Linked DNA regions of Homo sapiens. The protein of the gene in region 1 purifies or fractionates together with the protein of each later gene. This does not show direct contact. Each region holds a gene or a part of one and is shown in the gene's direction. Other genes may lie near its edges.

Region 1 (3,500 bases):
CTAGGCAGCCTCTCTAAATCCAGAGGCAGTGATGGTCATAGGCAGTTCCTGGTTTATATTCTATAAGTTTAGCAGCTGCAGTGGAAGGCAAGATCTGCTTAGGCTTAGAGCCTGTCCCATTGCCGAGCCTCAGTGGGAACTCTGGGTAGAAAGACCTGGTCCCTGTGCCCCCCTTTAAGGCAGGCTCTGGGGTCAGTCCTACTTGAGCCACCTGGATTAAAGATAAGAGGCAGTTTCTGAAAGAAGGTTTAGTTTTGTTGCCAAAATAATAGATGCTGGGTAGGCAAAACCAATAGAAATGCAATCTAGTATTTTTGTGGGCCAATTTGATTTCTCATTCTGTAACAAGTCTGTGACCTTTAATAGACAAGCAGATATGGCTATGTCCCTTGTCCATGGTCACATAACTAACAAGTTGGCAGAGCCAGAATTTCAGTCTAACTTTGTCTGACTTCACAGCCTGGCCTCTTTCCAGTACCAGAGCTTCTTAAACTTTCTAGCGTAGCACCCCCAGTGGTAGGAAGTATGAGCACACACTCTGGAGTGTGAGGTTATGGCCCAGCAACCTATGAGAAGCCTACATTTCCTTTGAAGTCTAGTTCGTTTAATGTTAAATCATTAAAAGTTTGCATTCTACTCTATAAAATGTTCATTGCAGTGCAGAAAAAGGTTTTATATGACCTAGGGAATAAAATTGATGCTCAAAGAAGAGTCCTGTTTGTCTTGTGGCGAGCCCTGCTGGCCACATATCCTAGTATGAGAAGCTCAACACTACCCTGTGCTGGGTGTTCAGTTGCCGTTCTCTATTTTCAGCAGGGATTTAATGACTCACTCTTTAGAGTTGTAGGCAGCATAAAGTGAGGTAACACAAACATCAGAAACATAAAGAAAATTGAATTTTGTAAAGAGCACACTGTTGTCATCTCAGATTTCAAGGGTACCTCTGACCTTAAGGTTTCCTGCCAGTGCTGTACAGTTTCCCCAACCAGCTGTGGTTGTTGGCCGCCCTGCTCTTTGTGACTCATACCCAATAAACTGGTTTTGGTGAGAAAGGGCACTGTTGATGACTCAGGATACCTTTCATGTGTTTTTAGTATATTAAAGTTTGCATTCATTCTGACTTCAGTTAAGATGAACGTTATATTTTAGACTACATTTAGTTTTGTAGAAAACCATGGGGCTGTAATGTTGAAGAACAAGAATACAAAAAATAAATCTTAGTACTAAAGGTCAGTTTTCATTTTTGCAAAATACCCTCCTAAAAGGAGACTTTGAAGGTTTATTATGAGGGAATTCTTTTCCCTTGAGACTTGGATTTTTTTTTTCATTATTATTTTCATCTTATTAGGACCTTTTCATTCAAAGAACCATTATGACACAAGGCTTAGGTTGTTAGTTTTTTATTACTAATCTAGGACTGATGACTTTTCAAAAACCAAGTGTGAGTTTATAAACTTGTTAGAAGTAATTGTTTTGTATTATATAAATTAATATGTGAACTGTGATTAAAGTTTGCATTTATATCCTAAGACTGCTGTCTGCTAATGGATGTTAATAGTGATACGTACTAGAAGTTGAAGGTTGTATTGGGGTATCTTGTAATGAGTGTAATTAGTTTTGAAGAAATCTCTTAAATTCTCTCTCCAATGAAATTTCTGCCTTTCAGAGTAGAATGCATGATTATTGCCAATGATGCCACCGTCAAAGGAGGTGCCTACTACCCAGTGACTGTGAAAAAACAATTACGGGCCCAAGAAATTGCCATGCAAAACAGGCTCCCCTGCATCTACTTAGGCAAGTCACCAGAGTGGTAAAATAAACTATTATTAGCTGGTAAAATGCAAGATAGTTTGGAAGGCTGTATGTATTACATTTGGGATGGGTATTTTATAAACCTGTTGATTTCTCCTGTAATTATAAAGGAAACACAGGTTCTTTGCTGAAAACTCTGGGGGAAAGTAAACAAGAACTGTTCATAGTACTAGTGCATAATACTCATACATTTTGACGCATGCCAGTTTTTTTCTCTATGTGTTGTGTGGTTTTTTTTTTTTGTTCTCTAGATCCTGTTTTTCTTTTAACTTTATGGATCATACTATGAAAAAAATAGTAGCAAGTATTTATAGATCTCTTGAGTGCCAGGTACTGAGTTAAATGTGCAAGTATTATATAATTTGAGCAGATGTAATTTAAAGTAAATTTAATTTCCAGTGAAAGTAAACTTATATTTGAAATTAAAACACATTTAAATCAAAGAACCTGAAAGCAAAGCAGTTTAAAATGGGCCTTTCCTCCGGGCGCGGTGGCTCACGCCTGTAATCCCAGCACTTTGGGAGGCCGAGGCAGGCGGATCATGAGGTCAGGAGATGGAGACCATCCTGGCTAACACACTGAAACCTCGTCTCTACTAAAAAAAAATACAAAAAATTAGCCGAGCGTGGTGGCAGGCAGCTGTAGTCCCAGCTACTTGGGAGGCTGAGGCAGGAGAATGGTGTGAACCTGGGAGGCGGAGCTTGCAGTGAGCTGAAATCGTGCCACTGTACTCCAGCCTGGGCGACAGAGAGAGAGACTGTCTCAAAAAAAAAAAAAAAAAAAAAAAATGGGCCTTTCCTGATACTGGGTTAGTCTGATAAAATTCCAACATACGTTGTTCATGTATGCAGGTATTTGAACGGGTACTGATGTAGAGGTATTTTTTGTTTTGTGTTTTTCTGTGAAGTTGAATTTACCTGATTAACTCACAATACGAACTGCTCTGCACGTAGAGAAAACAGCAAATGAGGCCCAGCTGCTTGTAGGTGCTGTGCTGGTCTTTATAGGGGATACAGTGAGGAGGATTTTGTTGTCTCTGTCTTCAGCGAGCTCATAATGAATTGGACACAGCATATAATGTGCAACCAACAAAAGACTTAATGGTTGCAGATTCTGAACTAAGTGCTTTCTATACATTTTTCAAGTCATCCTAATATATGATATGGCTCCTTTTTTTATCTTCATTTCGTGGGTAAGGAAACCGGGGCATAGGATGGCTAGGAAACACACCTATAATCACACAGCTGTGAAGTCATGAGCTCTGCTTTGAACGCAACTGACCTGTGTACCCACCACTCCAATCTGCAATGAAAACAGTATCAGAAGGCAATATGTATAAATTATTATATGAATTCTGTGGATGGCTTTTGTATTGGTTTAGAAGAAGGAAAGATACTTTTCCACCTTAACTCTTTAAGAATTTATGATGTTTCTGGGGCTTTAGCTGGTCCTCAAAGGAGAGAAGGTTCTAACCATTTCGAGAAGAATTTTGCACAGAGGTGGGAAAGCCTGATGGGTTTGGGGCAATGAATCCTTTTGGCTGCATTGGGGGTTTGGAGAACGAGGCTCTATAACAGTTTAGAAAGACAGGGCAAGTTTTTTGTGAATGTGATTAAGAACTGATGCTGTCATTGATACAAGTTTCCCTCTGCGTAGCACATTTAGTTCATAGAGATGCTTATGTTTCT
Region 2 (3,500 bases), on another chromosome or scaffold:
GGGTGTGGGGTCATTAAGCCTCTGTGCCTCAGCTCCCATCTCTTTGAACGGCGATGCCATGGTAACTTAGCACGTGCAGAGCCTTGGGAGCCATGCCGGCCACCTGCTCTTGTTATTAGCAGACTACAACTCACGGTACCAGCAAACACTGATGGAGCACCTTTTATACCAGAACAATGTATATGCGTTAAATTTAATCTGCCTAACAACACTATGAGATATGTATAAATATTATATCCTTATAGAGGAAAAAAACAGAGATTTAAATAACTTGTCCAGGATCATCCAAGCTAGCCCGTGGCAGAGCTGGGATTCAGACTCTGAAATTCTGGCTCCAAAGCCGTGATGCTGGTCTTGGCCATGGTAGCTTCCTGTTCATATGCACTCTACTACTCCTTCTCACATGAGCAGCCGGGGGTAGGGAGAGGGCAGGCAGGGATCTTCCCACACACTGACAGGGTCCGGACAAACCCCATGGGCGTGGTACCCCCAGCCGTGTTGCTGTGTCCGGCCTACCAGAGTGAGGCGTGGCAGTATGGGGCCTGGCCTTTGCTCGCTCTTGGTGTCCAGTCTGCCATGCTCCCCTGTCAGAAGGTCTAGGCTGCTGTTGATGTCTGCAATGTAGTGTTTTGGGTATCCAAGATTGATATATGCAGTTGCAAGAGAATATCTGTCTGTGGTCAGGTTCCCTAGAAGCAGCATCTAAGGTAAAAATTCTTGTGCAAGTGATTTATTGAGGGAATGTTCCAGAAAATCATGCGAGGCAGTAAGGGCAGAGGAAAGCAAAGCAAAAGTAAAGGTTCAGGAGAAGTCTAGCCTGGGGCTGCTCCCAGGGTGGGTTTTGGAGTATTAACTGCACCCTCCAATTATACCTGCCTGTCCCCACCTCTGTCAGCCTTTGGTTTCAGTGGCCCCTGGGGTGGGGTGGAGGACCCACCAGGCATAATCCCTCGGCCTCTTTGTGTACAGGAGCTCTTATCCATCCACAGCAAGCAAGGATGGGACAGTGCAGGCCGTTATCATCCAGCCCTTGCTGCAGCTGGAGGACAGGGCACCAGCCACAGGGGTCTGAGCAGGGCACCCACAGCATCTGTCCAGAGACCTGCAAAGACAGGAATGCAAAGAAGGCAATTAAGTGTCTTAAGAGGAAGCTGGGGTTATCAGCTCTCTCACAAGAGCTTTGTCCACTGTCCAGAGGTGGTCAGGGTGGGAGGGGAGTGAGGAGAGACCAGCTGAGCACACACACCCTGCTCCCCACAGATCAACCCAGAAGACCCTGGGTTGAAGCATCTCTCAGCCACGCCCTGTGGAGTCTGGCTGGGCTTTAGCTTGCAGAAAGCTCCAGAACATCTTTGAAAGGCAATGGGGCGAGGGTCAGGCCGAGAGGCAAGTTCCAGTTCTGGCAGAGCATGCATACAGAGTACCATTCTTACACAGCCACTCTTAACGCACAGTGACATGCACCCACCCATGAGCTTATCCATAACTCTTTTTGTACATGTGTTTTTTTTCCTGGCCCCTAACAAAAGCATTTGTTGAAAAACTATTGATAAACAAGCAGGCCCCAAACAATTCAAACATCTTATTAAATACAGTAAATCTGAGGCAGACACTAGAGTAGCCCAGAGTCATGAGCTACAATGGGGGCAGTTCATGTCTGGCAGCCAGAATCCCCTTGAACTGATGGCTGGACGCAGGCTCTACCTGGGACCAGCTTGAAGTGCTATCCTGAAGCTGCAGACTGCAGGGCCGGCCAGACCCTTTTTCAGCCTCTCCTCTTCCCACCTCTGTATCCCACACAGGCATCTGGTGATGTTCTCCAGGTGTTTCTGTGGCAGTTCTGGGAGCTACTGGGTGATTGCAAGATTAGTTTTTTTTTCTAAGTTGACTTTCTATGTGGTGCCTGAATGACGTTTTCTTTTTTTGTTCAGTAGGAATCCTTTTTTATAGAAGTAATAAAGTCATTACACTTAAAAACAAAGTGAAAGTGTGGTGGGAGTGGGTGATGGAAAATCGAGCAGCTGGTAGGGGACACAAGCTCTGCAATTCCCTCTGTGTCCCTGGAATAGTGGCCTCCCCACTCTGAACTCATCACTAATCTGAGACTCCCTGCTTCTTCCTCATCTGAAGGTTGGAGACAAGGCTGGAGCGCCCAGCACAGCACCCCTTGTGGGACACCTTCATCACTGCCTCAGGTCCGACCACAGGAACTGTGAAATCCTTCCTTTTGGCCGGGCGCAGTGGCTCATGCCTGTAATCCCAGCACTTTGGGAGGCCAAGGTGGATGGATCATGAGGTCAGGAGTTCGAGACCAGCCTGACCAATGTGGTGAAACCCCGTCTCTACTAAAAATACAAACAAAAATTAGTCGGGCATGGTGGTGCGCGCCTGTAATCCCAGCTATTCAGGAGGGCTGAGGCAGGAGAATCGCTTCAACCCGGGAGGCGGAGGTTGTAGTGAGCCGAGATCGCACCACTGCACTCCAGCCTGGGCAACAGAGCAAGACTCTGTCTCAAAAAAAGAAAAGAAAAGAAAAGAAATCCTTCCTTTTGCAGCTGCTGGTGAAGAATATTCAGCTGGAGGATGGCAAAATGATCCTGGCCTCGAACTTCTTTAAGGGGGCAGCCAGCAGTGTCCTTGAGCTGACAGAGGCAGAGCTGGTTACTGCGGAGGCTGTGCGGGTAAGAGGCAACTTCAGGGCTGCCATCCAGTTGGGCAGGTTGTGCCGTGCACATGTGTTCTGCAAATCACACTCCCCAGAGTTGGGCAGCGCCAGCCCTCTGTGGGTGTCTGTTTTGGCTCCAGGTGCAGTGTTGGTTCTATCTCGTCTTGGAGCTTTCTGTTGTCTTCTTGCTGCTCCTTCCTCTGCAACTGGGGCCCTGGGATCTGGCCAGTTCAGTCTGACTCTTCTAGGGGCTCATTGTCAACACTTAATAAGTGAAACAGAAGCTCCTGGAATATTTGAAAGAGTCAGGTGTCAAGCCCATGTCCCTGTGATTAGAATGTGAGCACTGGAGCCTTCCAGAAAGGCTGCACCAGAGGCAGCATCCCGGGCTGTGACCAACACAAGCTGCCCATAAGGCACACCTGGTCTCCAATCCAGCTTTGCCCCAATATGATGCTGTAGGGAGCTTTCGTCTCTAAGACTCAGTCTTCTCAACATGAATTTCCATCCATGCTCACTTCCTGGAATTTGTTCCTGACCCTTCATGCTCCCTCCCACTGTATCCTTCTTCCCTGGGTGGAGAGAAGAGATCTGGGGGAAGACCTTCAAGAGAGAAGGAACAGCAAATGGCAAGGCCCTAACAGGGCAGAGGCCTCCCTGTGTTCAGGGAGTCACCATGGGAGGGCACTGTAGCTGGAGCCCAGGGGGTGAGGGGCAGAGTCAGGTGGGCACAGCTGGGGACCTTGGGTGTTAACAGCACATGTGCGGCAAGGCTCAGCAAGGATGGACATGAGGCATTTGTGTGATCCAAAGGTGCTGAGAGCCAGCAACTTCC
Region 3 (3,500 bases), on another chromosome or scaffold:
TTGCAGTGCGGTAGGTTTGTTTACACCGCATTACCACAAACAAGTGAGTAATGTTTTGTGCTACATCCTTACAGTGGCTTCGACATCGCTAGGTGATAGGAATTTGTCAGCTCCATTATAATCTTACTGATCTGTCATTGACTGAAATGTCATTATATCGTGCATGAGTGTGTGTGTGTGTGTGTGTGTGTATTTTTTTTTTTTTTTTTTTTTGAGAGAAGGCCTCACTTTGTCACCCAGGCTGGAGTGTAGTGGCCTGATCACAACTCATTGCAGCTTTGACCTCCTGGGCTTAAGCATACTTTTTCTTGCAGCCTTCTAAGTAGCTGGGACCACACAGGTGTTCGCCACTATGCCTGGCTAATTAAAAAAACTTTTTGGAGAGATAAGGTTTCACTGTGTTGCCCAGGCTGTTCTTGAATTCCTGGGCTTAAGTGATCCTCCTCCTTTGGCCTCTCAAATTGTTAGGATTCCAGGTGTGAGCCACCATGCCTGGCCTAATGTTTAAAAATTTCTGGCTGGTGCGGTGGCCCATGCCTGTAATCCCAGCACATAACGGAGGCCAAGGCAGGTGGATCACCTGAGGTTGGGAGTTCGAGACCATCCTGACCAACATGGAGAAACCCCGTCTCTACTAAAAATACAAAATTAGCTGGGCATGGTGGCGCACGCATGTAATCCCAGCTACTCAGGAGGCTGAGGCAGAAGAATCGCTTGAACCCGGGAAGTGGAGGTTGCGGTGAGCCGAGATTGCGCCATTGCATTCCAGGCAACAAGAGCGAAACTCTGTCTCAAATTCTAGTAGAGTCAGGTTCTCAGTATGTTGCCCAGGCTGGTCTCAAACTGCTGGTCCCAGCCTCCCAAAGTGCTGGGCTTGTAGGCAGGAGGTACCATGGCCAAAATAGATATTTTTAATAAAATATTATAGCCTTGCTTTAAATTGGAGAACTGATGAAAAATACTTTGTCTCTTTATCTGGGGGAAGTTAGCATCTTAATTATATATGACTTGATGTTTCATATATATATGACTTGAAGTCTAAAGTCAAGTCATTAGACTTATTTAACTTATTCACGGCATTGGAGACTATAAAGGTTGATTCTATTAAACCATATCAAGCAATGGAAGTAATTTTTGTGTCATCACATCACTTTTAAAAACACATTTTCCTAGCCGGGCGTGGTGGCTCACGCTTGTAATCCCAGCACTTTGGGAGGCTGAGGCGGGCGGATCACGAGGTCAGGAGATCGAGACCATCCTGGCTAACACGGTGAAACCCCGTCTCTACTAAAAATACAAAAAATTAGCCGGGCATGGTGGCGGGCACCTGTAGTCCCAGCTACTCGGGAGGCTGAGGCAGGAGAATGGCATGAACCCGGGAGGTGGAGCTTGCAGTGAGTGGAGATTGTGCCACGGCACTCCAGTCTGGGCAACAGAGCGAGACTCTGTCTCAAAGAATTTTAGAATGAGACTCCGTCTCAAAGAATGACTCCCGTCTAAGCATTTTATATTGTCAGCTGGGGTGCTGAACTTTGGGTTTCTTTCAAGGTTCATGGGGGCATAGGAAAAACTAGTTGAGAGCTATATAGATTTAATTTTGTGGGAGAGATAAACATTTACCAGATTTTAATGTTAATAAAATTATATCCAGGTGAATATGAATATGCCTCAGTTGTGTTTTATGGCCCACTTGAAAGTGAAGGGAGAGGGAGGGATAGAACAGTGCAGTAGTAAGTAGAAAGGTTATTAAGCTTAAATAGAGGGAAGCTAAATAGGCAGATTTACTGTTTTTGAATATTATATGAAGAGATTGCATATGTGCAGACTTTAACATTGCCACCTTATGGCTTTTTGTATATTTCCTCCAGAGACTGAATTTTCTATTTTATTTTATTTTATTTTTAATTTTTATTTTTGAGACAGAATCTAGCTCTGTTGGCTAGGCTGGAGTGCAGTGGCGCGATCTTGGCTCACCCGGGTTCAAGTGATTGATTCTCCTGCCTCAGCCTCCTGAATAGCTGGGACTACAGGCATGTGCCACCACGCTTGGCTAATTTTTGTATTTTTAGTAGAGATGGGGTTTCACAATGTTGGCCAGCCCTGTCTTGAGCTACTGACCTCAAGTGATCCACCTGCCTCGGCCTCCCAAAGTGCTGGCATTACAGGCATGAGCCACTGCACCCAGCCGAGTTTTCTATTTTGTAATCATAGATTTAAAGTGAGGAGGGCCTAAGGTGGATGGGTGGATAGAGATGTCGACATTATTTCTAGTTATTTAAGCCACAGACCAGATCTGTCTGGACTTGTAGTTTCCTAATTTATTCATAGTTAATATCTTTAATGTTTTTATTTGAGACAGAGTTTTGCTCTTTTGCCCAGGCTGGAGTGAAGTGGCGTGACCTTGGCTCGCTGCAACCTCTGCCCCCTGGGTTCAAACAATTCTCCTGCCTCAGCCTCCTGAGTAGCTGGGATTATAGGTGCCTGACACCAGGGCTGGCTAGTTTTTTATTTATTTTTAATTTTTATTTTTTATTGAGATGGAATCTCCCTCTGTTGCTCAGGCTGGAGTGCAGTGGTGCGATCTCAGCTCAGTGCAACCTCCACCACCCAGGTTCAAGCGATTCTCCTGCCTTAGCCTCCTGAATAGCTGGGACTACAGGTGTGTGCCACCATGCCCAACTAATTTTTTGTATTTTTAGCAGAGATGGGGTTTCACCATGTTAGCCAGGATGGTCTCGATCTCCTGACCTGGTGATCCGCCCACCTCAGCCTCCCAAAGTGCTGGGATCACAGGCGTAAGCCACTGTGCCCAGCCAATTTTTTTTTTTTTTGGGATTATGGGCGTGAGCCACTGAGCCTGGCCGACAATTTATAATTGTATATATTTATGGGGTACAAAGTAATCTTAATTTTTTCAAAGAACCAACTTTTGTTTTTTTTTTTCCTATTATATATACTTTAACTCATGCCAGCTCATATCTTTATTATTATTATTATTTTTTAAATTTATTTATTTTATTTTTTTTTGAGACGGGGTTTCTCTCTTGTTGCCAAGGCTGGAGTGCAGTGGTGTGATCTCGGCTCACTGCAACCTCCATCTCCCAGGTTCAAGCGATTTTCCTGCCTCAGCCTTCCTAGTAGCTGGGATTACAGGCATGTGCCACCACGCCCAGCTAATTTTGTATTTTTAGTAAGAGACGGGGGTTTCTCCATGTTGGTCAGGCTGGTCTCGAACTCCCGACCTCAGGTGATCCGCCCACCTCGGCCTCCCAAAGTGCTGGGATTACAGGCATGAGCCACTGTGCCCGGCCCAATTTTTTATTTTTATTTATTTTTATTTTTATTTTTTTGAGACGGAGTTTTGCTCTGTCACCCAGGCTGGAGTACAGTGGCGCGATCTCAGCTCACTGCATCCCCTGCCTCCTGGATTTAAGCAGTTCTCTGCCTCAGCCTCCCAAATGGCTGGGATTACAGGCGCCCACCACCACGCCCGGCTAATT
Region 4 (3,500 bases), on another chromosome or scaffold:
GTCATACCCAGAAGTGTTCTGCCCAGGCAAAGGCCCCCTCTTCTGAGTGCATGGATCCCCTGGCTGGTGGATTCTGTATCCTCCAAGTGCCTGCTTGCTTCCTTAGGTCACCAAGAAGTTCTACTCAATGGGCTGCTACGAGATCTCCCTGGGGGACACCATTGGTGTGGGCACCCCAGGGATCATGAAAGACATGCTATCTGCTGTCATGCAGGAAGTGCCTCTGGCTGCCCTGGCTGTCCACTGCCATGACACCTATGGTCAAGCCCTGGCCAACACCTTGATGGCCCTGCAGGTAATCAAAAGCATATGCCCATTCTCCCAAAGGTCACGGTGGGCAGGACAGCTTGTTATCATTTATTCTTTCAGCAAACATTTACTGATGCCAGTATGCCAGGTTCCAAGCTGGCAATGGTGGACACAGTCATGGTGACCCTGCCCAGATGTGAAGTGTACAGCTCTGTGTTGGGGAGACAGTCAAGGGAGTTACATGGCAATCCCACTGCATTATGACAGATGCCATGAAGGGAGGAAGCATGGGGCTCAGGAAGCCTAGAGGGGCCCCATCCCAGCTGAGGAGATCTGGGAGGATTTGCAAAAGAGGCCTCAGTGAAGCTTGAAGAACATAAAGTAAGCTGCTGTTGAGGGAAGAGGAAAGATGACTAGGCAGAATTGCACCTCAGGACTGATGTGGGGTTCAGGGAGGACTCATACAATATACAGGGTTTTCAGTGTGCGGGTGTGTAGCAGAAGCAGATGAGGAAGCAGGAGGTAGAGAAGCTAGCAGAGGTCACTCAGAGGGAGAGGCTTTAATGCCGTTCCCCACAGATTGAGCTAAGACCTCAGATTAGTTTCCTTTGAGGTTTGCTTCTCGTGGGCTGGTCCAGAATGGAGATCCATTGGCTGGCAGCCAGATAGAAGGAGCATTCTTAGTGTCTGACCACAGCTACCTTGCTGTAGCATTGGCCTAACCTTCCATCTCTAGGATAGTGATGGCAGTTCCAGCCACTTTTTTTTTCCTCTCAATTATCCCCTAGAGGTTCGTGTCTAAGCCAGGTGAGTCTGTTATGTTCTGGGTCGGTTTCCTCAGAGTTGTGGCTGTCAAGGTTAAGGTTCGTAGTTCTGTGGTCTCCTCATTTTTCAGCTTACTGTGATACCCTGCCCTGGTTCCTGGGCTTTCCTTCAGCTCATGCGTTTCCCAGCCAGGCAGACAGGAAGAGTGACTTCCTCTCCTATGCCTTGCCAGGCAGGTAAAGGGGAATTCTGCACAGCTGAGGTGAGTCTGAGGCAAAACTTCATCCTGATCACGCTCAGGACACTCCTGCTCCTCTGTGCTTCTCTGTTTCATGGCAGTGATATCTCAGAATCCCCTTTTTGAAAATTTATCAGGGAACAGGTTGAGCTGTGTGACGTCTGGCAGTAGCTTCCTCTGACCTCCCTCTTCCATCAGTTACTTCGGAAATATGGATCGATGTGCCAGGTTAAGTGCTGACTTAGACAATGGTAACAAGACCCAATCCCTGCCCTCTGGGAGCTCATGTTATGGTGGGTGGGGAAGACAGATGGAAGATTACAGGCGTGTAAATAGCACATTGTAAGACCATTTATTCACCTATTAAAACCTAACCTAACGGTGCCTAGTGTGCTAGGCACTGTTCTCAGCATTAAGGATTCAGCTGTGACCAAAACAGAGTCTCTGCCCTCATGAGGCTGACACTCTAGTACTATGAGACAGATAATAAATAAACAAACATACAGCAGGCCAGGTGTTCATAAACACTGTGGAGAAAAAATGAAGCAGGTTAAGGCAGTGCCAGGCCTTTCTGTAGAGTGGCCTCACTCAGAAGGTAGCATTTGAGAGAGACCTGAGGGAAGCGAGGGAGTGAGCCCTGCGGATCCCTAGCAGGGAGGGGGAGGGAAGGGAGCCCCACCCAGGAAAGCAGGCGCAGAGCCCTGAGGGAGGAGTGTGCTTGCTGTGTTCAGGGATCAGGAGGAGGCATGTGGCGGGAGCAGTGTGACTGAGGAGAGGGGGGCAGAGATGTCAGGGTTAGAGGAAGGCCAGATCGGGGGCCTTGTAGGACTTTGACTCTTTCAGACTGAGCTGGGAAGCTAACAGAGAGTCTTGAGCAGGGGCGGGGAGGGAGATGATCTGAAATGTTCCGTTTGAGAGGCTCCTCGGCTGGGCACAGTGGCTCACACCTGTAATCCCAGCACTTTGGGAGGCTGAGGCAGGTGGATCACTTGAGGTCAGGAGTTTTGAGACCAGCCTGGCCAACATGGTGAAACCCTGTCTCAACTAAAAATATAAAAATTAGCTGGGCGTGGTGGCGTGAGCCTGTAATCCCAGCTATTTGCGAGGCTGAGGCATGAGAATCACTTGAGCCCGGGAGGTGGAGGTTGCAGTGATTTGCAGTGAGCTGAGATGGCGCCAGTGCACTCCAGCCTAGGCAACAGAGTGAGACTTCTTATCAAAAAAAAAAAAGAGGCTCCTCTGGGTGCTGTGTAGAGAATACACTGTAGAGAGAAGAACCAGTTTGGAGCCTACAGCAATCCAGGTGAGAGACATGGCAAGGAGGCCTGGAGGGCAGAGGTGCGTGACCGGATCTCAGCAGTTCGTGTTCTGATCTGTGAAGCTCGAGACATCTATAGGCAGGTGTGTTAACCTGGGTGCAGTTAACTGGGAGTGAGTGGAGATAGAGAAGCTGTCTGAGGAATGAGCAGTAAGGGCTCCAACCGAGATCAGGGAGGTGAGGAAGAGCCAGCAAAGACTGGATCGAGGCCTCAGGAGAGGCTAGAGCACTAGGAGGAAAACCAAGGGATGTGGAGCCCTGGAAGCCACATGGAGAAGGTGTCCAAGATGATGCGGCTAGTCAAGTGCAAAGATGAAGAGACTTGACCTTTGTACTTAGCTACATGGAGGCCACCAGTGGCCTTGACTAGAGCTGTTTCAGTGGAGGAGTTGTGGGGACGCAAACCTGTTTCGAATGGGTTCAAATGAGAATGGTAGATGTTAAATGGGAACAGCTCTTTTGAGGGACTTTGCTTTGAATGGGGGGAAAGAAATTGGAGGTTAGAGGGTTCCAAAAAGGTTTGTAAAAGATGGGAGAGATCGCAGGCTGTGTGAAGATGACCCAGTGGAGGGGAGTAACAGGTTGCAGCAGAGAGGGAGAGACTTACTGGAGCACATCCTGAAGCAGGTGGGAATGGGCCTCACGCCAAGGTGGAGGGGTTGGCCTTGGCTAGGAGCTCAGGGTCCATCTCAGGCAGCATGAGGGACAGTGGGTCTGTAGGCCCAGATGTAGGCAGGTGGGTAGATGTGATGGTGGGAATCAATGGAGACATCTCTTGATTGCATCCATTTCCATAAAGCAGCAGATGAGAATGAGGATGGGGAAGGGGGTGATAGAGGTTTAAGAAGAGAGGAGAAAGTGAAATAGTCATTTGGGATAGTGGGAGGTGACTGACCTGGGAAGATGGGATGTGGCCCTCGTGTGGCAAGG

The links. The genes of interacting proteins can lie anywhere in the genome.
Region 2: the proteins of MCCC2 (region 1) and ALDH1L1 purify together in Homo sapiens (co-immunoprecipitation; one large-scale study listed by IntAct). This does not show direct contact.
Region 3: the proteins of MCCC2 (region 1) and YTHDF2 fractionate together in Homo sapiens (co-fractionation; one large-scale study listed by BioGRID). This does not show direct contact.
Region 4: the proteins of MCCC2 (region 1) and HMGCL fractionate together in Homo sapiens (co-fractionation; one large-scale study listed by BioGRID). This does not show direct contact.

Annotation. Positions count from the first base shown.
Region 1 is NC_000005.10:71,600,840-71,604,339, forward strand, and holds part of MCCC2 (methylcrotonoyl-CoA carboxylase beta chain, mitochondrial isoform 1 precursor), read left to right. Parts: intron 1-1,666; coding exon 1,667-1,794; intron 1,795-3,500. UniProt on the Homo sapiens protein: Carboxyltransferase subunit of the 3-methylcrotonyl-CoA carboxylase, an enzyme that catalyzes the conversion of 3-methylcrotonyl-CoA to 3-methylglutaconyl-CoA, a critical step for leucine and isovaleric acid catabolism.
Region 2 is NC_000003.12:126,149,587-126,153,086, reverse strand, and holds part of ALDH1L1 (cytosolic 10-formyltetrahydrofolate dehydrogenase), read left to right. Parts: intron 1-2,555; coding exon 2,556-2,681; intron 2,682-3,500. UniProt on the Homo sapiens protein: Cytosolic 10-formyltetrahydrofolate dehydrogenase that catalyzes the NADP(+)-dependent conversion of 10-formyltetrahydrofolate to tetrahydrofolate and carbon dioxide.
Region 3 is NC_000001.11:28,760,940-28,764,439, forward strand, and holds part of YTHDF2 (YTH domain-containing family protein 2), read left to right. Parts: intron 1-3,500. UniProt on the Homo sapiens protein: Specifically recognizes and binds N6-methyladenosine (m6A)-containing RNAs, and regulates their stability. M6A is a modification present at internal sites of mRNAs and some non-coding RNAs and plays a role in mRNA stability and processing.
Region 4 is NC_000001.11:23,804,930-23,808,429, reverse strand, and holds part of HMGCL (hydroxymethylglutaryl-CoA lyase, mitochondrial isoform 1 precursor), read left to right. Parts: intron 1-106; coding exon 107-295; intron 296-3,500. UniProt on the Homo sapiens protein: Mitochondrial 3-hydroxy-3-methylglutaryl-CoA lyase that catalyzes a cation-dependent cleavage of (S)-3-hydroxy-3-methylglutaryl-CoA into acetyl-CoA and acetoacetate, a key step in ketogenesis. Terminal step in leucine catabolism.